Homo sapiens: one gene and its partners. The protein of the gene in region 1 purifies or fractionates together with the protein of each later gene. This does not show direct contact. Each region holds a gene or a part of one and is shown in the gene's direction. Other genes may lie near its edges. The genes, in order: LRBA, CAST, FRMD1, RELT, SFSWAP, KIF15 and CAPN5.

The links.
Region 2: the proteins of LRBA (region 1) and CAST fractionate together in Homo sapiens (co-fractionation; one large-scale study listed by BioGRID). This does not show direct contact.
Region 3: the proteins of LRBA (region 1) and FRMD1 purify together in Homo sapiens (co-immunoprecipitation; one large-scale study listed by IntAct). This does not show direct contact.
Region 4: the proteins of LRBA (region 1) and RELT purify together in Homo sapiens (co-immunoprecipitation; one large-scale study listed by IntAct). This does not show direct contact.
Region 5: the proteins of LRBA (region 1) and SFSWAP fractionate together in Homo sapiens (co-fractionation; one large-scale study listed by BioGRID). This does not show direct contact.
Region 6: the proteins of LRBA (region 1) and KIF15 fractionate together in Homo sapiens (co-fractionation; one large-scale study listed by BioGRID). This does not show direct contact.
Region 7: the proteins of LRBA (region 1) and CAPN5 purify together in Homo sapiens (co-immunoprecipitation; one large-scale study listed by IntAct). This does not show direct contact.

Annotation. Positions count from the first base shown.
Region 1 is NC_000004.12:150,851,285-150,854,784, reverse strand, and holds part of LRBA (lipopolysaccharide-responsive and beige-like anchor protein), read left to right. Parts: intron 1-1,841; coding exon 1,842-2,900; intron 2,901-3,500. UniProt on the Homo sapiens protein: Involved in coupling signal transduction and vesicle trafficking to enable polarized secretion and/or membrane deposition of immune effector molecules. Involved in phagophore growth during mitophagy by regulating ATG9A trafficking to mitochondria.
Region 2 is NC_000005.10:96,668,876-96,672,375, forward strand, and holds part of CAST (calpastatin), read left to right. Parts: intron 1-3,500.
Region 3 is NC_000006.12:168,076,413-168,080,414, reverse strand, and holds the start of FRMD1 (FERM domain-containing protein 1), read left to right. Parts: upstream 1-1,202; 5' UTR 1,203-1,320; coding exon 1,321-1,533; intron 1,534-4,002.
Region 4 is NC_000011.10:73,393,399-73,395,686, forward strand, and holds part of RELT (tumor necrosis factor receptor superfamily member 19L isoform 1 precursor), read left to right. Parts: exon of another isoform or gene 1-207; coding exon of another isoform or gene 208-256; intron 257-414; coding exon of another isoform or gene 415-438; coding exon 439-519; intron 520-827; coding exon of another isoform or gene 828-837; coding exon 838-919; intron 920-1,078; coding exon 1,079-1,336; intron 1,337-1,688; coding exon 1,689-1,887; intron 1,888-2,045; coding exon 2,046-2,093; 3' UTR 2,094-2,288. UniProt on the Homo sapiens protein: May play a role in apoptosis. Induces activation of MAPK14/p38 and MAPK8/JNK MAPK cascades, when overexpressed. Involved in dental enamel formation.
Region 5 is NC_000012.12:131,749,090-131,752,589, forward strand, and holds part of SFSWAP (splicing factor, suppressor of white-apricot homolog), read left to right. Parts: intron 1-3,500.
Region 6 is NC_000003.12:44,851,275-44,853,756, forward strand, and holds the end of KIF15 (kinesin-like protein KIF15), read left to right. Parts: intron 1-512; coding exon 513-678; intron 679-933; coding exon 934-1,065; intron 1,066-1,398; coding exon 1,399-1,461; 3' UTR 1,462-1,982; downstream 1,983-2,482. UniProt on the Homo sapiens protein: Plus-end directed kinesin-like motor enzyme involved in mitotic spindle assembly.
Region 7 is NC_000011.10:77,115,471-77,118,970, forward strand, and holds part of CAPN5 (calpain-5), read left to right. Parts: coding exon 1-118; intron 119-755; coding exon 756-833; intron 834-2,686; coding exon 2,687-2,882; intron 2,883-3,500.

The DNA of each region.
Region 1 (3,500 bases):
ACCAAGCTTATTTCAGCTCCAAGGCCTTTGCATTTGTTCTTCTCTGCCTGAAACTCTTTTCTTTTTACATGGCTTGCTCTCTCTTTTATTCTTGCCTTTGTTCAAATAGAACAGAGAGGCCTACTGCAGTTACACTAGTAAATACACCTTCTCGCCTAGACTTTCAGAACAGTTCTTCACTCTGTACTTCCCCCTCCCTTCAAAGCTCTTATTACTATTTGACATTATCTTACATATTCGTGTGTTTATTTTCTGACACCTTCTTTAGAATATAAGCTCCATGAAGTCAGGAACAATGTGTTCATCACACAATGCCTGGCCTGCTACCGATGTTCAGTAAATTTTTGTTGAATGAATATGAGGAATTGGTCAATTAAAATACAGAACCCATGTCAAATAAAATATTGGCATTGTGAATGTAAAAGAAATTGATATTTTGTTAATGTGATTATGTCATTTTACTGTTTAGTGAGGAATACATGCATTTATTGTTGAAATATTATAAAAAGATTTCTAAGTTTTAGAATTAAGAACATAGTTACAATGTGGAAATAGTTACAATTAGGAAAAATACAAATATTCACAGGAAAATATTCATTCCCTGAACATTTTTATTTTTAGGTATATCACATGGCATGAATGTTCTGTATATGTCATGAGTAAAGGCGAGTTAATGTCGATAGAAGGAAATTTTTGCATTGAGAGTCATTTTTACTTTTGTTTGCTTTTCATCTGTGTGTATACTCTTGTGATTCAATAAGGCCTATTGATTTTTGTGGATAAAAAAATCAGCTTTTCTTCCTTGATTGTCCTATCATCCTCTTATACTATGGCTCAATAAAGATTTATTGAATGAATGTTCAGTTTACTCTATATAATAATGTAGATTACAGAAACAAACACTTTTGGGATTAATAAACTATAATTAGGCTAATACTTTCTGCATGTGTTATAGGTTTTTCTGGCATTTTTGTTGCAAGGGGTGATGGGGGTTACCATTGAAACACCAATGGAAATCATATGATGGTGGCTATAAGATAATCCTTAGATTTTAAAAATTCTAAATCTTGTGACATTAACAAGTACAGCACTCTCTTTAAAAAAAAATTTACTTTTTCAGTTTTTTCCCATTTGGGTAAAAGGCAAAGCATGATATAGGAATGTTCACGGTGCCTAATATATTGTAGTCACTCAGATATAAATGGAATGAATGGATGTATGGATGGATCAACTGAAACATTCAGACTATTTTCGACCAGTTCAAACTTTGGAAATTATGGTTAACCTTTGGGGGAAGGGCTGGATCTTTTTTCTCCCATTGCTAAAAGAATTTGTATTCATTGGCTTAGTGAGATAATGGTTTTGTAGCTTAATAGATATCTGTAGAGCTACTGTAATGGTGAGCATAATTAATTGATATTTTTAATCTCTCCTGCGGACAAGTCCTGGGGAAATTGGTATTCATAGCGGTTGAAACAAGTGTTATCCAGTGCATAAAGCACTTCCCAATGGTACATACTTAAATTCTGGTACAAGTTATGGTGGCCAGTAGAATAGTGTATCCTTTTCCTATACATGTTTAATAATAGGCTAAATAATTATGTTCTTCTTGTGGTTTCATGCTGTGTTACTTGTTAACATTAAAATTGGCTGTAGTTTTTAATGAATATTTAGATTTCTGTGATTGACTTACATTTATCATTCTACTAAAATAAAATATAGGAAAATTAAGTTTTATTGTATTATATAAACTATGTATTTGAAAATTATTTAGTTTTATATTTTGTATTCTGTCTTCATTTCTCATGCATATTTTAACTGATTGTACATTTTTCACCTAGGTCACTTTTGAAATACACAAAGAAAACCTTGCCAATATATTTAGGGAACAGCAAGGAAAAGTTGATGAAGAAATAGGGCTGTGTTCTTCAACTTCAGTTCAAGCAGCCTCTGGCATTAGAAGGGATATTAATGTTTCAGTAGGATCCCAGCAACCAGATACGAAGGATTCTCCTGTCTGTCCTCATTTCACCACAAATGGTAATGAAAATTCAAGTATAGAGAAGACAAGTTCACTAGAATCTGCATCTAATATTGAACTGCAAACTACTAATACATCTTATGAAGAAATGAAAGCTGAGCAAGAAAATCAGGAGTTACCAGATGAAGGCACTTTGGAAGAAACACTGACAAATGAGACAAGGAATGCAGATGATTTAGAAGTATCTTCTGACATAATAGAAGCTGTGGCTATTTCCTCTAATTCTTTTATAACAACTGGCAAAGATTCAATGACTGTCAGTGAAGTAACTGCTTCTATAAGTTCTCCTTCAGAAGAGGATGCCTCAGAGATGCCAGAATTCTTGGATAAATCTATAGTAGAGGAAGAGGAAGATGATGATTATGTGGAACTGAAAGTAGAAGGCAGTCCTACTGAGGAAGCTAATCTACCCACAGAGCTCCAAGATAACAGTTTGTCTCCAGCTGCATCTGAAGCCGGTGAAAAACTGGACATGTTTGGTAATGATGACAAATTAATATTTCAAGAAGGAAAACCTGTTACTGAAAAGCAAACTGATACTGAAACTCAAGATTCTAAAGATTCTGGAATTCAGACTATGACAGCATCAGGGTCTTCAGCTATGTCACCAGAAACTACTGTTTCCCAAATAGCTGTAGAATCAGACCTTGGTCAGATGCTGGAGGAAGGGAAGAAAGCAACTAACCTCACTAGAGAAACCAAATTAATTAATGATTGTCATGGTAGTGTCTCTGAGGCTTCTTCTGAGCAAAAGATTGCGAAGTTGGATGTTTCCAATGTTGCTACAGATACTGAGAGGCTGGAGTTGAAGGCCAGTCCCAACGTGGAAGCACCTCAACCTCATCGACATGTGCTTGAGGTGATTTTATATATTGTCTTATTCAAGTACTTTTGCACTGAGTTAAAAAAGAGCAAGTGTATATACTTAAATTTTATTTTATTTTGAATTTGGTTCACATGCTATTCACAACTAAATAAATGCAATGAATGTGAAGATTGTATTTCAGATCATTAGCACAGTGTTTGGCAGTTAATGTGAGTTCATTAAATGACAGTTTTTATTACTATTTTTACCATAGTATCACCAGAAGTTACCACTTTGAAGGATTGGTATAATTTTAGTTTATAAAACAAATATTGGAAACACTTGCATTTTACCTTTTATTTGACTAACCCAATCCTAGTACATTAGTTTTCCAACAAACTCTAGGGCTACCTACCTGCCAGTGTATAATTTTAGTTACTAAGCATGTGATTTAAAATTGTATTATGAAGTCTATAAGAGAGAGGAGGCTTTGTGAGATCTAGAGGCACAGCCTTCTCCTCTGTCCATATCTCAGAGTGACCCATGAGACAGTGCTTGGTAGCATGTTGTCATTTTCCACTTTATTCAATTCTTATCCTCTGTCCCACCCTCCTTTTTTTTGTTTTTGTTGGTTGGTTCTTCATTATGTTATCT
Region 2 (3,500 bases), on another chromosome or scaffold:
AAGCTGCTACCATCCCTAGTCTAGAGGGACACAGGGAGGACAAGGGTCACCTTGCAGAAGCTGGAACCACAGCCAACCCATCCTGCAGGAGGTGCTACTGGAGGAGGGGGTGGGGCAAAGGGAATACCACCCACCCACCACCTCTAGTCTCCTGGCAGCGCCTGCTGTTGGCTAAACCCAACTTGAGGCCATCCATCAAGAGAATTGCAGCCAGCAAAGTTCCACTACAATTTGAACACAGCAGAAGTGGAACAAGGAATCCACCTGAAGGCAGACAGTTCTAGGATCTGCACCCAGGGAGACTGTTCTGAAGCAAAACCAGCTTTACAGAAGCTTTGGTCCATCTGCTTGTTTGCTGAATAATTTTGCTTTAGCAAGTAGAATACATATACAAATATATTTTAAGGCATTTTTGTGGGAAATACCAATTTGCACATTGTCTCTTAATTTTTCAAGCTACCTTCTTGGCCTCTTTCTCTTTTGTCTAGTTTACTGATCTGAAAAGAGCAAAATTACTTCTCAGGGAATGTTTATAGGTTTGTGGGAACATGGTCATTCAATCAAGAATTCTTTGTTATGGTCCTACCACACATCTAGGAAAAAAAGGATATAACTTACCCTGTGATTAGGAAGGCAAGATGTAAGTTTATAAAGTAATCAGTAAGCAAGAGAGTGTACAATAAAGTGCTAATTTGTTTGATTTACTGAGAAAATAGAGATTAATGTGCAAATATGAAAATATGATACTCCATTAATAGGGCAAAGCTCAGAATTTGACAGGAAACACTGGTGTAGACATAGGGCACTGTGCTGCTTCACTGACCAATCAGAGTTTACCCAGGAGGAGCCCAGAGCCACCCCAGTCTGCCTGACCCTGGGAACCTCCCCATGGGTGCCGACTCAGTGGGATGGTTTGAGGAGCGGAAACTTCCGCTTCCTATCATGGTGCCCATAAATCTTCCCCCAAAACCAGTGGTTCTCAATCCTGGCTGTATATTGGAATCATCTGGGGAACTTTAGAAAAATTTATCCATGGCAAGGCCCCATTCTATTCAAACTAAATCTAAATCCCTGTGCCCTGACACAAATGTTTCTAAAAGCTTCCCAGGTGCTTGTGACAGGCACTGAAGGATGGGACCCACTGCTAACCTGAAGTCTTTGTGATCCTCAGGAGCCCCTGGTAGAAGCCTTTCTCAGTGTGTGTGATGGTAGAGAGCTGAGTTCCATGAGCTCGGAGAGTCCAGAGGGTATCAAGATAACCTTTTATTGCTCCATGATTTTTCCACAGCTGTCCCTGGACATGCAAATACTATCTCGATGAAATTGTCGCCACATTGAAGAAGGAAAATGTTTAAGTTTTCAAATAAATCACCCACCAAGACATATGATACAATATGTTTTAGTATAGTCACAGGGTGGTCACAACCATCAGCACAATTTTACTTTAGAATGTTTTCCTTTCCTCCTAAAAGAAGCCTCATACTTTAAAAAATAATAATAATAAAGCAAAGGCATTTCAGAAGCACACTAGCATTTCATACTCTTTTCACAGCTGGACTTAATGCTGGCAAGGGCTGCTTTTCTGTCTTCTTGCTTCTTTTATATGTGAAGAAGTTTCTTTGATTTTTTTTTCTTTTTTTTGTGATGGAGTTTTGCTCGTTACTCAGGCTGGAGTGCAATGGCACGATCTCAGCTCGCTGCAACCTCCACCTCCTGGGTTCAAGTAATTCTCCTGCCTCAGCCTCCGGAGTAGCTGGGACTACAGGTGTGCACCACCATGCCCAGCTAATTTTTGTATTTTTAGTAGAGACAGGGTTTTACCATATTGGCCAGGCTGGTCTCGAACTCCTGATCTCCTGATCTGCCCACCTCGGCCTCCCAAAGTGTTGGGATTACAGGCGTGAGCCACTGTGCCCGGCCTAGTTTCTTTGATTTTTATCTTGTTTTGTGTGACATGTTCCCTTGGCTGTCTATGTATCTGTGTGTATCTGGGTAACAACAGGGCAGGTGCCCAAATGTGGCAGAGTTGAACCTTGCCCTGGCAGAAGCCCTTAGCTGGGTGAGAGCTCAGGCTCTGAGCCTTATTGCACTTAGCTCTTATTGATTTTTTTCAGATTTATGGGTTTGCTATGGCAGATTTTAAACGTATAGAGGCTGTCACCTAGAATGAGGACAAACGACAGTTGTAGTTGCCAACTATGTGATAAAGGGGGTGAAAACAGTTTGGAAAATTATTCCTTCTTGAGTTAAGATAGCAAAGCCCTTGATCTGATTTTTTTCTCTGGCTCTGAGCTTCTGGAGCACATACCACCTTCATCTTAGCCCCCATCTAGTCTCCTGTCTTCTATGGCCTTGTCCTTCCAGTGAAATTCTTTACTATGGCATCCTGTCCTGCTCTTCCTGTCTTTGGCCTCCTCTCTAGCTGCCAATACAGGACAGTATTGTGTGTTCAGTTCATTTATAAAACAAGTTTTAGAATAGGAAGTTTTCATGTTTTGTTATTTTTCGTGCCTTTTGTTTTGTTCTCATTTCAGATCACCCGCATGCTCTAAAGACTTTCTTGATGAAAATCCTAAGATCCTAGTTAGCTTTTAACTAGATCCAAAGTAGCCTAGTCTTTGGCCCATGTAATCCTGAGTGGTATCACCATGGAGAACATCGCTGTTCAGATCTTCAGTTGCTTTATTCATGAACCAAGGCGACAGTGGGTACTCCCTAGAGCTGCTATGGGTAGCAAAGAAGACCACATAGGAGATGCCTGGCACTGGGCCTAGCACAGAGCAGATGCTTAGGAGGTGTTAATTTCTTTTCTGTAATTAGTTTTGTGGTTCAGTTCTCTTTCCCCAGCTGTCAATCCTTCCCTGTTCCCTGCTCATCTCACTCTCCTCAACCCAGCAGTTACACGTAGTAGTGGTCAGCAGAGTTTTCTCTCTTCGCTCTTTAGAAAGACGCCTGCAGATTCCTGAGCTGGATCGAATTTGACATATGTCATTCCCAAGTATTTCATTCCATCCTCTCAGTTATGTGAAAAGTACTCAATTATTTCATGAATCTCTCTCAGTGAAAAGATACAATTGACTTTACATCATTAACAGACTGCTGAATATTGAATAATTTTCAATAAATGATCAGGGCAATGGTTAATTGATAAAGTTGTTATTTACTGGAAATACCTGTTAATTGTCTTAGGGTGATAATAGTATTGGGTATATAGCAATACCATTTGGGAAAATGTTCTCAAATTTAAGGAGATGCATGGTGAAAAGTTTAGGGTTAAAATTTCAGGATGTCTGTGATTTACTTTCCATTACAGGTATATAAAGACATGTAGTGCCCTCTTGTTCTCTCTCTCTGTCTCTCTCTCTCTCTCTCTTTCTGTGTCTGTATGTATGCCTGTGTGTGTGTATGCAAATAGGGCAAAATATGGCAACAATGTTAATAGTTGTTGAAATCTGAGCGGGGGGAATATGGGCATTCATTGTATTATTCTTTCAACTTTT
Region 3 (4,002 bases), on another chromosome or scaffold:
AAGGGATCCCCACATCTTCCATAGTGAACAGCTCTACGTTTGCTGTGGAGAGAAAAGAGACCGCCACTGCTGTCTTGGGCACACATGTGTGGCCTCGAGGGTCTGGGAAGGGTCTGGATCTGAGCGGAGGGAGGGAGGGAGGGAGCCAGTGTCAGTCCAGGGTCCGGGGGAGGTGAGGCCTAAGCCTCCTAAATCTTCTCAACCCACCGGGCCGGGCCTTAGGGCGGCTGGAGTGCGAATTTCCTAAACCCACCGGGCCAGGCCTTAAGGCGGCTGGAGTGCGAATTTCCTAAGATGAACAACGGCCCGTCCGGAGGTCCAGACCCCTTACTAGAGGAAGGTCCCAGAGCATCCCAGACTCCATGGCAGGAAACTGATGGAGCTCACGGCTGAGGACAGAATTCCACAGCCCAGGCCCGTGGGAACTGCCTCTCCTGACCTGCAGCGCCCAAAGGTCTGGGTGGTCCCAGGGCCAGGCAGGATCCTGGGGTCCCTTCCCCACCTAACACTGTGCCAAAGAGCTCGAAGGCGTTGCTCATCTCTGCTGAGCGGCCTCAGGGGTTCCAGGCCCTGCGGGAGATGTCCCCACCCCTCGTGCTGATGCACCCGGCTGCTGTCCACGCAAGCCAGGACCCCCTTCCTGGCCTTCCAGCTGCTGCAGGCAGGAAGGGATTTGCTGGCCCTGGACAAGGAAGGAAGTGTCCTCAGTTTCCAGCCCCTAAAGGGAGCCAGGGTCCCTCCTGGCAGAACCTGTCCAGGAACGGCAGCTGTGCTGCTTCCTGAGGTCGATAACAGATGCCACAGGAGGTGTGTGGGGCAGGGTGCCCACCCAGGCTGCCTTCCTCCCGCCCTCCTCGTCCTGCCCTGCTGCTGCTCCATCTTCCCCAGCAGCCCTGGCTCTGGCATCTGTGCCCATGGGGTTTGCATAGCCCTCTCCACATTATAGAAGAAGGAGCAGGCACCCTGAGGAGATAGGGGTTGTCAGGTGGAGGAGTTGGGTCCTGTCTCCCCCAGCCTGGTTCTCACGGGGCCCACACCGAGGCTGGCTGCTGAGCTACCCTGCATGGGAGTGCTGCATGGCGGGTGCCCAGCCTGAGGTTGTTTATTTGCATTCCTGGCGCCCTCCACACACCCAGCTATTTGCAGCTCTGACCCTTGTCCTGGCTTGGCCATGCTGGATTCCCAGCCCAGGCTTCCCTCTCAATTCCCTTCCCAGTGAGAAGCTCGGCAAGGGCGGGTCCCGGAAAGCACAGCTGTGATCTGGGAGGTGCTGAGCACCCACCTGCGACCCATGGCGGGGGAGGGCCGAGTAACGACAGCATGGCGGTGCCCCCGAGAGGGAGGGGCATAGACCCCGCCCGGACAAACCCTGACACGTTCCCTCCTTCAGGGGCGCGATGTATGGAACCCAGTCCTGAGAGGCCTGCATGCAGTCAGCAGGAGCCGACCCTGGGAATGGACGCGATGGCCTCGGAACACAGGGATGTCCTCGTGCTGCTGCCCAGCCGGGAGCAACTGCGGCTGGCCGTGGGGGTGAGCAGGGCCCTGGGTGGCCGTGGGGGTAAACAGAGCTGTGGGGGTGAGCAGGGCTCCGGGTGGCCGTGGGGGTGAGCAGGGCCCTGGGTGGCCGTGGGGGTGAGCAGGGCCCTGGATGGCCTTGGGAGTAAACAGAGCCATGGGGGTGAGGAGGGCCCTGGGTGGCCATAGGGGTGAGCAGGGCTGTGGGGGTGAGCAGAGCCATGGGGGTGAGCAGGGCCCTGGGTGGCCGTGGGGGTGAGCAAGGCTGTGGGGGTGAGCAGGGCCGTGAGGGTGAGCAGAGCCGTGGGGGTGAGCAGGGCTGTGAGGGTGAGCAGAGCCGTGGGGGTGAGCAGGGCCGTGGGGGTGAGCAGGGGTATGGGGTGAGCAGAGCCTCAGGACACAGCCTGTGTATGGAAAGTCCCTGGACCGCCTCACTCTGCTTAGGCCAGGTGTCTGTGAGGTGTCAAGGGCCAGCCCTTTCACTGGGCCTGTGAAGGAAACATCCCTGATAGACGTTGCTGTGAGAAATAAGTTTATGGTTCAGCACATCCTTCCCGGGAGGGAGCGCTGAGGGAAGAGCGCCAGGAAGCCGGTTTCCAAGGAGCAGCTCCTGTCTTGTGTTCAGACGTCACCATCTCTATGCTTCTCTATTTCCTTTTCTTTTCCCTTTCCCCCATTTTGTCTACCTGTTTTAGTTGAGTTCATGGCGACAGGAGTTGAGATGGTACTTTCATTTTAATGATTAATGTGGATAATGAAAATGTGGCAATTAAAATGAGAGTGGTTTGTTGAAGAACGATGACTTTCTGCATAGCTAATGTATCATTGCTACCTGGAATGGAGTATGACTTGCTAGTAATATCCTGGTTCAAGTCCCCTGGGAATCTGGGAGTCTCTTGTCTGCTTCGGGATAGAGTTCTGTGTTTACGTAAACGCCCACATCTATGTTTGTGGCAAAATCTTCCCCAAGACTCTGTGTCCCCACCCAGCAACGAGAAGCTGGAGTTGAGCTAATGGGGGATGTCCTGTAGTTTCCTGGGGTCCCCAGCAGTGCCTCGGGCTGGGGGAGGGGTCATAAGAGGACCTGTTGTGGGGAAGATGCTGGGGCTTTGGCCCCCTACCCCATAAGAGCTGGAACTTTTAGGTTTCTTGCACGGAACTTCACGGTAAGATTTTAACTGAGGGATCATGCAGCTAGAACATAGTGAACCGCCTGTTCTGAACAGGTGAATCGTGCTCATCTGCTTTTGACGGAGCTCCCTGAAGTGCCTCTGCAACTCCTGTGGCCCCTGCTGGGCCTGGCAAGTTGGCAACCACAGAGCCACTTCCTATCGGGGTGTGCGCACATCTGTGTCTGCAGTTGGACAGGAACCCCTCACTGGGTTGTGCAGTCATCTATGTCTGCAGTTAGACAGGAACCCCCCCACAGGGTGTGTGCACATCTGTGTCTGCAGTTGGACAGGAACCCCTCACTGGGTTGTGCAGTCATCTATGTCTGCAGTTAGACAGGAACCCCCCCACAGGGTGTGTGCACATCTGTGTCTGCAGTTGGACAGGAACCCCTCATTGGGGTTTGCAGTCGTCTATGTCTGCAGTTAGACAAGAACCCCCCCCCATCGGAGTGTGTGCACATCTGTGTCTGCAGTTGGACAGAAACCCCCTATTGAGGTGTGCACACATCTGTGTCTGCAGTAGGAGAGGAACCCTCTATCAGATGTGCATGCATCTGTGTCTGCAGTAGGAGAGGAACCCTCTGTTGGTGTGTGCACACATCTCTGTCTGCAGTAGGACAGCAACCCTCTGTTGGGGTGTGCATGCATCTGAGTCTGCAGTAGGAGAGGAACCCTCTGTTGGGGTGTGCATGCATCTGTGTCTGCAGTTGGACAGGAACCCTCTGTTGGGGTGTGCACGCATCCGTATCTACAGTTGGACAGGAACCCTCTATTGGGGTGTATACTCGTGTGTATCTGTAGTTAGACAGGGAACGCTCTATTGGAGTGTGTGCACACCTGTGTCTGCAGTTAGACAGGAACCCTGTATTCAACCAAATATGTGTCAAGCCCAGTTATTCGAAAGGGATGGGCTGGGAAGACCCTCACTGAAGATCTGTGTTACCGTCATTGTGGGGCCTGCCCCTCACCAAGTTAAGCAGACAATAATCATATTAGTCTGTTCTCACGCTGCTAATAAAGACATACCCAAGACTTGGTAATTTATAAAGGAAAGAGGTTTAATTGACTCACAGTTCCACATGGCTGGGGAGGCCTCAGGAAACTTACAGTCATGGCAGAAGGCACCTCTTCACAGGGTGGCAGGAGAGAGAATGAGTGCCCAGCGAAGGGGGAAGTGCCTTATAAAACCATCAGATCTCATGAGAACTCTCTCACTATCATGAGAACTGGATGGGGGAACCACCCCCGTGATTCAGTCACCTCCCACCGGCTCACTCTCACAGCACAGGAAGATTATGAGAACTACAATTCA
Region 4 (2,288 bases), on another chromosome or scaffold:
GGGGCACTCAGTTAAATTGTTACATAGGGCACAGTAGAGAGGCCATGGAATAGCAGTTTGCTGTAGATTTGGGGAGTTCTGGGTAGGGTGGCAGCCCACAGCTCCTTGAGGCTGAGGAGGAGACAGTGCAGACCCAGAAGACGCTGACGCACCGCCCCCTCGCCCGCCCAATTCAATGACTGGAGTTCACGTGGCCCTGAAGCCTCTATGCACCCGGGCTGTTGGGTGCAGGAAGCACTGGTGTTGAATCATGAAGGTGATATGGGCTTCTCTGAGCCTGGATCCCACATTTGCAGGGCTCTGGGAGGCTTGTCACCTAAATGCACATGCTCAGGGCCCTTAAGAAGGCCAGGGTTGCCCTCTGCTGGCAGATCATGGTTTAGCTCAGGAGTGCGGCTTCCCCCTCTTCCCCAGGATCAGGGCCCTTCTCTTCCCCAGGAATCAACCCTGCCTACCGGACTGAGGATGCCAATGAGGACACCATTGGGGTCCTGGTGCGCTTGATCACAGAGAAGAAAGGTGAGGAGAAGGTCTGACCCCATCCCAGTGCCCAGGAGAGGAGGGTTTCCTCCAGGAGCCTGTGAGGCAGCCGCGGTGGGCAGAGTCTTGCCCTGCTCTGCCTTCCCTGCCAGGGTGCCTCAAGCAGCCTGGTGCTCTCTGACCCAGGAGTGCACACCTCTGCCTCCCATTCTTGCCTGATGAAGTGGGAGGAAAAGGCGCACAGCCCAGGCTGGGAGTGGTGGTATGGAGGGTAGGTGGGGGGTTCTCTGCTGGGGCAGGGGGTGGGAGGTGTGTCCCATATGGCCACAGTGAGGGTCTGACTGCAGCTACCCACAGAGAATGCTGCGGCCCTGGAGGAGCTGCTGAAAGAGTACCACAGCAAACAGCTGGTGCAGACGAGCCACAGGCCTGTGTCCAAGTGAGTGGGCTGGTGGGAGATAACGGGGCCAAAACCTACATTAACCAGCCTGCCTCCTGGGGATCTCCCACTTGGGTCTCCCTCAAGTCACCCTGTTCCCTGCTGGGGTCTCCTGCCCCTGGCCTGGCCTATGGCCACTTCTGCCTGTGCCCCCTGCAGGCTGCCGCCAGCGCCCCCGAACGTGCCACACATCTGCCCGCACCGCCACCATCTCCACACCGTGCAGGGCCTGGCCTCGCTCTCTGGCCCCTGCTGCTCCCGCTGTAGCCAGAAGAAGTGGCCCGAGGTGCTGCTGTCCCCTGAGGCTGTAGCCGCCACTACTCCTGTTCCCAGCCTTCTGCCTAACCCGACCAGGGTTCCCAAGGCCGGGGCCAAGGCAGGGCGTCAGGGCGAGATCACCATCTTGTCTGTGGGCAGGTGAGATGGGCACAGATGCAGCAGGGGCAGGTAAAGACGTGACAGCCTGGGGGCCGGGAGGGGGAGGCAGGGCCCCAGCTTGGGCCCTGAGCACCCTGCTCAATGGGAGCCCTGCCCTTATTGGGCCTCTCTGGGCAGTGGAGGCGGCCAGAGAGATCAGGACTTTCCGGTTATGTTGTGTCTCACATGGAGCCCTTGCATCCCTAGGGCAGCATCTTGGCCCCCATGGCACCCGGGCCTCTCAGGCTAAGGCTCTGGTCCATGAACTTGCTGTGTGACCCCGGGCACGTGCTGCCTTCTCTGTGCCCCGGGATCCCCGCTAACGGGGATGATTGCCCCACTCTCCTCACAGGTTCCGCGTGGCTCGAATTCCTGAGCAGCGGACAAGTTCAATGGTGTCTGAGGTGAAGACCATCACGGAGGCTGGGCCCTCGTGGGGTGATCTCCCTGACTCCCCACAGCCTGGCCTCCCCCCTGAGCAGCAGGCCCTGCTAGGAAGTGGCGGAAGCCGTACAAAGTGGCTGAAGCCCCCAGCAGAGAACAAGGCCGAGGTGAGAGTCAAGGAGAAAGGCATCTGTTGGCACCTGGGCCAACCCTGACCGAAGACGGGGCAGGGGTGGAAGTGCAGCGGGCCCTAGGCAGGGGCCACTTTCCTGGAGCCAGAAGCCAGCCCCTGACTCAGCTCTGACCCCTCACCCCTGCCCACCAGGAGAACCGCTATGTGGTCCGGCTAAGTGAGAGCAACCTGGTCATCTGAGGGGCGGTCTAGTCTAAGGACACTGCGGCCCTGCCCTGGGAGGTTCCGAAGGCTTCCTGGAGGAGGTGGAGCTGCAGCTGGGACTGTGAGGACCGAGAAGCAATGGCCCAGCAGACGAGACAGCAAAGACCAAGGCCTGGAGGTGGGAGCGTCTGCCCCAGTGAGGAGGCAGGTGGCCGGCGGGCACTGTGTACA
Region 5 (3,500 bases), on another chromosome or scaffold:
AAAATAGGCTTCGTGTTAGATGATGTCATCCAGCCGTCAGCTACTGTAGGTGCCCTGAGCACATTTAAGGCAGGTGAGGCTGTGCCATGGTGTTCGGTGGGTTATAGGTGGATTCTGTGCATTTTCCACTTCACGGTGTTGTCAGTGTATGGTGGGGTTGTCGGGAAGTAGCCTCGCTATAAGCCCAGGAGAATCCCGGCATGTCGTGGCAGCCTGAGGACAGCAGGAGCCCCTTGGCACACTGTGCCCTCCCCCGTTCATGACTAGTAATGGCACAGTTATTGTAAAGCTGATGTGGCTTTTGCCAGCCCAGACTTCAGTTTGTAGACTACAGCCCAGCTTGTAGATTTTATTTCTGTTGTCACCCTGTACTAGTCCAGAAATTCTTAAAATTTAGTGTTCACGAGAATTGCTGTGTACAACATACAAGGGGCTGTATACAAAATCCCTGTGTCCTATAGTTGGTAGTCAGTTTAAAGGGCTTCAGTCCAGTTAAAGGGTTCTGTGAGCTGTATGGTGCCACCATTGTGTGCGGCACGTGTCAAGCAGCTTCATGGTCACTGCAGGATATTTTAGCACTGAGGCATTTTAGAAGCAGTCCAGGCCGTGCCACCAGCTGGCATGAACTCACTCATTAAACACTTACTGAGGGCCTGCTCATGCCAGGAGCTGTGTGAGCGGCTAAGGTTTTGTGGTCACTATTTGGAGATATGGAGTCCTTGGGAACATAGCTGCACACCAGTCCTAGTGGCGCAGGAGTTGCCATAGGGCGTTGTTTACAGGGTCCCCACGCGAGCCCAGAGCAAAGGCCTCCTGAGTCTGCCAAGGAGGCAGAGGCTTCCCGAAAGAGGTGGCACTGGAGATAAGCTGAATAGGGGCCTCATGGCAGGCAGAGACCCTGTGAGGCCGTGCAAAGGACAGAGACCTGGGGAACAGAAGCCAGGGCAAGGGGTGGGCTGGGCAAGCGGCAGAAGCCCTTCGGGAGGCTGGCCCTGGGCTGCTCCAGATGACTTGTGCCCGTCCTGCCTCCCACCAGGGCCACAGTGTCTGGGGAAGGATGGATCTGACGTCCTCCCTTAGATCTTCACATCCCTGACACCCTATGAAGTGAGAATCTGGGAGAAGCAACCCAGGAACGGTGTAGCGGAATTCATGAACCACTGTGGTGTTGGTTCCCGGGCTGCCTCCGAGCATGGCAGTGCCATAGGACACGTCCCACATTCTCTGTCGGCAGACAGAGAAGTGTTTTCATCTCATCAAGCAACACATACTTTATTTCTCTTGGAGTCCTTTTGAGAGACAGGATGATTTTCAAATTTGATTAAAACCTTGGAGAGAATCACAGGTGTGTGTGGGGAAGAGGTGACAGCAGCAGTGGCTAGCAGCAGACCGCCTCACAGAGGCTGCGCGTGTCTCGGCTTCACAGCTCTCCTCTGTGAGAATCTCCTGGGTCTGGGTCAAGGGTGTGCCCAGAGCATTGTCAGCCTGAGTGGTTTTTAGCGTGGAGCCTCTGAAGCAAGTTGTGGACCTAGGCTAGGATGTCCCTGGAGTGTTTTCAGATTTGGGCATTTGTTTCATTTTTACACCTACAGGCAGCCTTTTTTTCTTTTTGTGAGCTCAGCTCAGGGGCTCACTCCATCACCCAAGCTGGAGCACAATGGTGCCATCAACACCTCACTGCAGCCCCAAACTCCTGGGCTCAAGCCATCCTCCTGCCACAGCCTCCCAAGTAGCTGGGACTGTAGATGTGTACCATGCCCAGCTAGTTTATTTTATTTTATTTTTTGGAGATGGGGTCTGATGGTATTGCCCAGGCCTGAAGCATCCTCCCACCTCAGCCTACCAAAGTGCTGGGATTATAGGTGTGACCCATGGCACCCAGCCTAAATTTTTCAAATTAGCTGACATTTTTGACATTTGTAGTGGATGAGTCTCTGAGCAGTCTGCCATTTTGCCGGCACTGCTATTTTTTTTAACACTTCGTTTTTATTTAACAAGATGGAAGGCTCAGGAAGGTCATATAGACTAACAGTCTGCGTGTTCTTTAAAGGAATGGCGCTCAGCTTTGAAAACAGTTTCTTCATCTCTGTTGTGTTCCAGTGTGATTGCACTTTACACAGTTACATAAAGAATGCAGGTATCAGGTTGGAGCTGCATAATATGTACTACTAGTTGAAATAATTATAAACCGTTTTGTTTTGTTTGTTTTTGTGAATTCAGATCCCGTCCTTTGTGGCCCCAGTTTAAAACATGTTTGGACACTTTTTAGGGGTGAGACTGACTGTCCAGAGCAGGACATGGGGTTTCCGTCCTTCCTGCTGAGGTGGGAGGCTGGAGACCTGACAGTAGCCAGTCGGTAGTGGGGTCAGTTCCGCCTGGCCCTCCCCAGAGCTAAGCACACACTGGGCTGCACTCTCTCCCCTGGAGTGCTGGCTTCGCCCTGGCTGAGAGGAAGCATCCATACATAGTAGCCTGATGGCTCCAGCAGGGAGTGGGTGGAAGCAGCAGCTCCCCCCTTCCAGGGATGACGTTGTCTCTTACAGAAGCACATGCTTATATTCGGATTCCTGATTTTGATAGGAAGCCTATGTTGGACCATCAGGTCAGTTCGTTGGTCCAGCACATACTCTGCTCAATGCAGAGGCTGCAGAGACAGTGAAGACAGGACCTGCCGCTGCAGGAGCCTCAGAGACGGTGCCTGCCCTGCTGTCAGCCTCCCATTGACATCCAAGGGTCTCATCCCCTGCTCCCGGCCTTTTCTCAGAAATGTTGCTCAGATATATCTGTGTTGACGATAATGTGGAGCACATCGAACCCACTTATCTTATTTTGAAAATTTGGAGTATTACTGTTTCTGTGTCATGGTGGTTGGTGTGTAACATGGAGCTAGAGAACAACGGTTTAGGAGTTCATCATGTATAATTAATTTAAATAAGTCATTAGCAGCTGGGGAATATGCCTACAGCACATAGGAATTATGCTGCCTCGCCAATCTAAGATGGAAAGGTCAAGATAGTCTAAGTTGTACTTCTGAAATTTTTCTCTGCATAGCATACATTACTGGAAACCATAGTTAAGCTTTTACTGTTTTTCAATGTTATTGTTTTAAGGTGAATTGATTGAAAGTGAAGATAAAAGTTCTTAATTCGAAAAATATTTTTGCCATCTCCTAATAAAGAGGAAATTAAATCTCTGTGTAGTCAGAACTACTTGCTTATCTACAACAGGACTGGAAATTAAATTTCGTAATTAATCATTGAATCTTCTGTGATTCGTGGTTCTGAACATTTAACCCCAAAAAGGATAAATGTACAGGATTTTTAATTGTTAAGACAGCGTGCCTCTACCCTACAGATACCTGCTTGTGTGCACAGCATAGGTGGCAAGACGGCATACATCACTGTCTGTGATGGAAAGGTCCAGACACAGCCTCAGTGCCCCTGGGAACTTTTATTTACTGAATAAATTCCTGCACAGCCTGTGTTGCTGGGGCCGGGGGC
Region 6 (2,482 bases), on another chromosome or scaffold:
GTGGGGGGTGAAGTAGGCATTTGTTTTGGGAAACTTACAGGATTCAGATCATTTTATAAAGTCAGTGAAATGTACATGAAGTGTATAAATTCTAAACAACTGAAGAAATGAATTGAAAGAAATGACTGGTGTCCCACTGTCTGAGGACCAGTTTTTGAAATCAGAAATGATCAAGATAGGGGATACTGAATAAACCATGCAGATTATAATAATACTTAAATTACATTTGCCCCAAGTGGGCTGAATCTAAACAATTTTATTCTAAATTTTTTTTGTTTAGAAAATGTTTTGAGGAGTTTTCCAAAATGAAAGTCTTGGGTAAAACAAAACCAAAAAAAGCATATCTGGTATGTAGCACTTACTGTCTTCTTTTGCCATCAGCAGAGGAGGGCTAAAGATTAGTAATACTTTCAAATCAAAATTCTGGCCTTGCAGTACACATGTCTAACTTGAGCACTGTTTTATGATTATGTTTCTTTCAAATACTATAAAGTGATAACCTATTCCTACAGCCTAGAAGAAGTCCAAAGTGCCCTTTACAACAAAGAGATGGAATGCCTTAGAATGACTGATGAAGTCGAACGAACCCAAACTTTGGAGTCTAAAGCATTCCAGGAAAAAGAACAACTGAGATCAAAGCTGGAAGAAATGTATGAAGAAAGAGAGAGAACATCCCAGGTGTGCTAGTGTGTTGGTGTTTTCATGATACTTAGAACACTCAAATGAATAGAACTAATTAGCGTAAAACTCACTTTGTGATTGGGTGTCCTTAGTTCAGAGTTGCTTTATTGTATGAAGAGTTGTGAGGCCTTGAAAGCTGGGATTCTGGACTCTCTGACTTCCTGTGCTCCTGGAAGGCAAGAAATAATGTGACTTTAAAAGAAAATTAAGACCTACTTCTCATTTTTCCCTCCTTGGATTGATTACCTGCAGGAGATGGAAATGTTAAGGAAGCAGGTGGAGTGTCTTGCTGAGGAAAATGGAAAGTTGGTAGGTCACCAAAATTTGCATCAGAAGATTCAGTACGTAGTGCGACTAAAGAAGGAAAATGTCAGGCTTGCTGAGGTAAACCTAAAAATTATTCTGAATAAATTCTGTCTGGTTTAAAAATGATTATTTTATTGAAACCAAATTAAAACTTAATTATTGAATCAGTTAACTGCTTACTTCAGGGAGCTTCCTGAATTAAAAAAAAAAAAAAAGTTGGTCGTTGCTATTCTGAGCCTAATTCAATCAGTGGCATTTCATAGACAGCAGATTCTTGTTTAACGTTTAGTTTGCACATTGAAAATTCCAGTCTTAATTTGAAATATACACCTAATAAATGCAAAAAAAAACCACTTCCTGTAAGAATTAGAGCCTTATTTTTTTTCTTTTTGTTTTTTTAAAATTACTTAGGAGACAGAAAAGTTGCGTGCCGAAAATGTATTTTTAAAAGAAAAGAAAAGAAGTGAATCTTGAGGATTCCGGTCAGCTACCTAGGCATCACCTTGTTTGAAGATGTTTCTTCTCTTTTACAAGTAAGACCTACTCCTGGCCACTTAGGAGAGCTGAATTTATGGACCTTAATTATTAAATGTTTATAAGGTGGTGGTAACCACCTCAAGTTTCTGATGAACATTCTGCATCCATATACACCCTGTGACAGTCAGCAGTCTGCTATTAAGTGGCCTACTTCAAGGCTTTGAATCAACTTAAGGGAAAACCTTTTGTCTTTGTAAAAATAAAAGCCTGTAGCTAAGGTTTACAGTGGACATTAGCCAGATCATTTTCTTCTTAGATTATGCCATAATCTCCTTTGATTCTTATGGAAGTTCTAACAATATATGGTGGTTCCAACACCTGCAGTGAGTTTAATGACTGACTTAGTAGCAGGTACAAGAAGCAAACTTGTTAATATAGATTATTTTTGTATTCTTACTTTAGGTATTTTCTTGAGCATTTTCCATGACTGTAAATAAAGCCATTTTTTAAGATAATAATTAAAGTGACTTACATTGTTCATTCTGTTGTTCATTGAACACATACTTAATGAACACCTGCAATATGCCAGGCACTAATCATCAGTGAACAAAGCAAATCTTGCCCTCAAGGAACTTCTGTGTATTGGGCCTTCTTTCTTTTTTATTGAGACAAATATTCCATTTTATGGATATGCTACACTGTCCATCCAACAGCTGATGGATACTTGAATTGTTTCCAGTTTAGGACTATTATAAATAATGGAGCTATAAATGTTCATGTGTAAGTCATGGTGTGGACATATATTTCATATCTCTTGAGCACATGCCTAGGAGTAGAATTACTGGGTTATCTGAAAAGCATGTCTTTACTTTTTAAGACATTGCCTGTTTTCCAAATTTACCATTTAGGTATACCATTTTACATTCCTACCAACAGTGTATTCCAATTTCTCCACATTTTCACCAACACTTGTTATTGTCAGGTTTTTTACTGCAGCCATCCTAGGTGTGTAGTTATA
Region 7 (3,500 bases), on another chromosome or scaffold:
TGCGCAAGGTGCGCCTGGGCCACGGCCTACTGGCCTTCTTCAAGTCAGAGAAGTTGGACATGATCCGCCTGCGCAACCCCTGGGGCGAGCGGGAGTGGAACGGGCCCTGGAGTGACACGTGAGGCCTGGGGATGGGGGTGCAGGCACAGGGCATGAGGGCTTGGACAAGGACGGGTGGGCTTCTTGGAGGAGTTGGCACTGGGGCTGGGCCTTGAAGGATCTGGGGGAGGATGACACTAGGAACGAAGAAGGGAGAATTACTTTGCAGTGGTTGTATGGGGTGATGGATTGAGCACAAGAAAGGCCTGGGGCTGGAGGCCATCAGGGGTGTAGAGACCAGCTTGGTGAGTGGGTGCGGGAGGGGAGCAGGGAGGGAGGCCACAGCCCTGAGCAAATGGGGGACTCCTCTGTGCTTGGCTTATGGCCCTGGTAAGGCCAAGATGGGAGTGGAGCCCAGGTGCTAAGTGAAGGAGCCCTCTTCACTGGGGGTCGCACCCCCCTTCCCCCCAGTCTGCAGCTTTACTTTCAGACCTCCCAGCCCCTGTCATGGTGGCAGCTCACGGTCCCTTGTGGGAGGAGACAGGCAGGGCTTCCTGGAGAGGGGCTGGGCATGGCCTCAGTGCCCCTGGCCACACCGTGCCGCTGGAGGCCTGGTGCAAGACTGCCCCTCGTGCCTCCTCGCCTTTGCCAGACAGATTCTGGTGGGGCTGCCTCTTAGACAGCTCCCTTTCTCCTCCCCGGCCCTGACACCCCAGCTCGGAGGAGTGGCAGAAAGTGAGCAAGAGTGAGCGGGAGAAGATGGGTGTGACCGTGCAGGACGACGGTGAGTTCTGGTGAGTGTGTATGTGCCCTGGGCGTCCGGGGCTGAGGGGGCTTCCCACGGGCCTGGCGGGGAGCACCAGGTGGGGAGTCAGGAGCCAGGCCTCTCCTGCATGCCCCATCATCAATTTGCTGTGTGGCCTTGGACAAGTCACACCATCTCAGAGCCTGTTTCCTCCTCTGTAAAATTAGTTGGGCAGTACCAGGCCCTTTCATCCCCACAGTCCCCTCTGCCGAACTGAGGGGTCCTGGAGCCGCTGTGGCACCCAGACCGAGCCTTTGGCATGCAGGTCAGGGAGCCGTCTAAGAGGTGGGCCCACCAGGATCTCCCCGGCAAGGGTAAGGAGGCATGAAGCACAGTCCAGCACCAGCAGTATGGTGTGGCCAGGGGCACTGGGGCTATGCCCAGCCCCTCTCCAGGAAGCCCTGCCCTCAGCCTGCCTCCAGGGGCCCTCTGGCAGCCTGATTTCTGAAATTAGGTAGCAGAGGCTCCTAGAGGAACTAGCTTCTAAGCTGAGACTTGAGGTACAGAGTAGGCCTTGGTGGGCAAGGAAGAGGACGTGGCTCAGAGGTGAGAGAACACAGCTGTGTTTGAGAAGGGAGCTAAGCAGGTACATGGGTGAGCTGGGAAGATGACAGCAGCTCAGCTTAAAGAGCCCAGTAATTGGCTGGGTACAGTGGCTCATGTCTATAATCCCAGCACTTTGGGAGGTCAAGGTAGAAGGATTGCTTGAGTCCAGGAGTTTGAGACCAGCCTGGGCAGCATAGTGGGACCCCATCTCTACAAAAATGAAAAATTAGCTGGGTGTGATGATGTACCCCTGTAGTCTCAGCTACTCTAGAGGCTGAGAGGGGAGGATTGCTTGAGCCCAGGAGGTTGAGTTTATAGTGAGCCATGATCGCACCACTGCACTCCATCCTGGGCTAAAGAGCAAGACCCTGTTTCAAAAACAAAAAGAAAAACCCCAGTAGTAATAAAAGTTCATCCTGCATTCATCCAGCCTGCATGAGTCCTGAATGTGGGCTAGGCTCAGTGTCACCCTTCAGCAGAACCTGATATGGAAACTCAGTCCCTTCCTGGAGGGGTATTGGCATCCTGTGTGTGCTGGATTCTGTCAGGGCCCCCAGGCAGACTGGGGGCAGATGGCAGTGGTCCTGGCACCCAATGATGAACCCTTCTGCAGGTGTCAGGTCAGCTGCTGCAGGAGGCCACCCAGGCCACTTTGCCAGTCTTGCTCAGGAGTCAGCAGATAAAAACACGGCAGAGCTCCTTGCCTTTAGAAAGAGTTTCTTCCAAAGGCCTTTCTCTTACATGTTCACGGTTAATTCACTGCCCCCTGCCCCCACCAGCTCCCTGGAGGCGTTCACAGTGTGCAGTGACCATAGCAACACCCTGGCCACCGCAGCAGGCTCACCATGGGGTTCCCACCATCCACTTACTCAGGCCTCTCAACAGCCATGGAAGATCCTGGATGCAGATGTGCTTTATAAACTGTACAGGGCAGCAGACAGTAGTTATTAACACCATTCACAATAGTAACAGCCAGCGTTTGCCAGTGCGTGCTCTGTCAGCCGAAAGTTGCACTGCCTGCTTTGATTGCATTACCTAATTCCTTCACTAGCTCTGAGATGGGCACCTGCTGTTAGATTCAGCCTCATTTTACAGGTGAGGAAACAGGTCAAAAGAGAGGTTAAGGGTCTGTGCAATGCCATGCCTGTGCCCTTGTGTGGGCTTAGCTCCCCTCTCAAAGCCAGCTGTGTTCTCTCACCTCTGGGCCATATGGACATATTAGGTTGTTGGGCTGGGGGGCCAAGAGCCTGGGGAGGTGTGGGGGAGGTACCCTGCTCAGCCCCTCCCCACATCCAGGATGACCTTCGAGGACGTGTGCCGGTACTTCACGGACATCATCAAGTGCCGCGTGATCAACACATCCCACCTGAGCATCCACAAGACGTGGGAGGAGGCCCGGCTGCATGGCGCCTGGACGCTGCATGAGGACCCGCGACAGAACCGCGGTGGCGGCTGCATCAACCACAAGGACACCTTCTTCCAGAACCCACAGGTGGGCGTTCTCAGGAACCCCCACCCTGCCCTGTAGCAGCTGCGGGGTGCCTTGCCACTGTCCTGCCAGGGACTCCTGCATGACCTTGGGTAATCCCTGTCCTTCCTTGGGCCTCAGCAAACCTGTCTGTACAGTGGGGGTTAGATGGGCACATCCGTCCCATCTGGGGGTCATGAAGCCCCCAGCCTCACAATCTAACCTGCAGATGGTAAAAATGAGGAAACCGCGGCTCTGAGGGACATTTGGGTGTCTTGTTCTGAGCTACAGGGACACTTAGAGGCTGAGCCAGGGACTCAGCCCCTTGTTTCCACAACAGCACAATTCTGTCCCTTCTGGGAACTTGGCTGGGCTGGGCTTCCCCACGGGGCCTCTCCCCACAGCCTCCTCAGTCTGACCCGTGGCGCTGCTTAGCCCTGGTGCTTGGTGTGCCTCTGTTGAGCACCACCTGTGTGCCAGGCTCTGTGCAGAGTGGCCACCCTGGCATTGAGTTTCCCCAGCCTTCATGCAGGGTAGCCATTGCAGGCATTGGTAGGCCCACCTCACAGCAGAGGGACCAAGGCGCAGAGAGGTGCTGTGACTGGTCCAGGCTCTGGAGTCTGAGCTTCCGGGAGCCAGCCA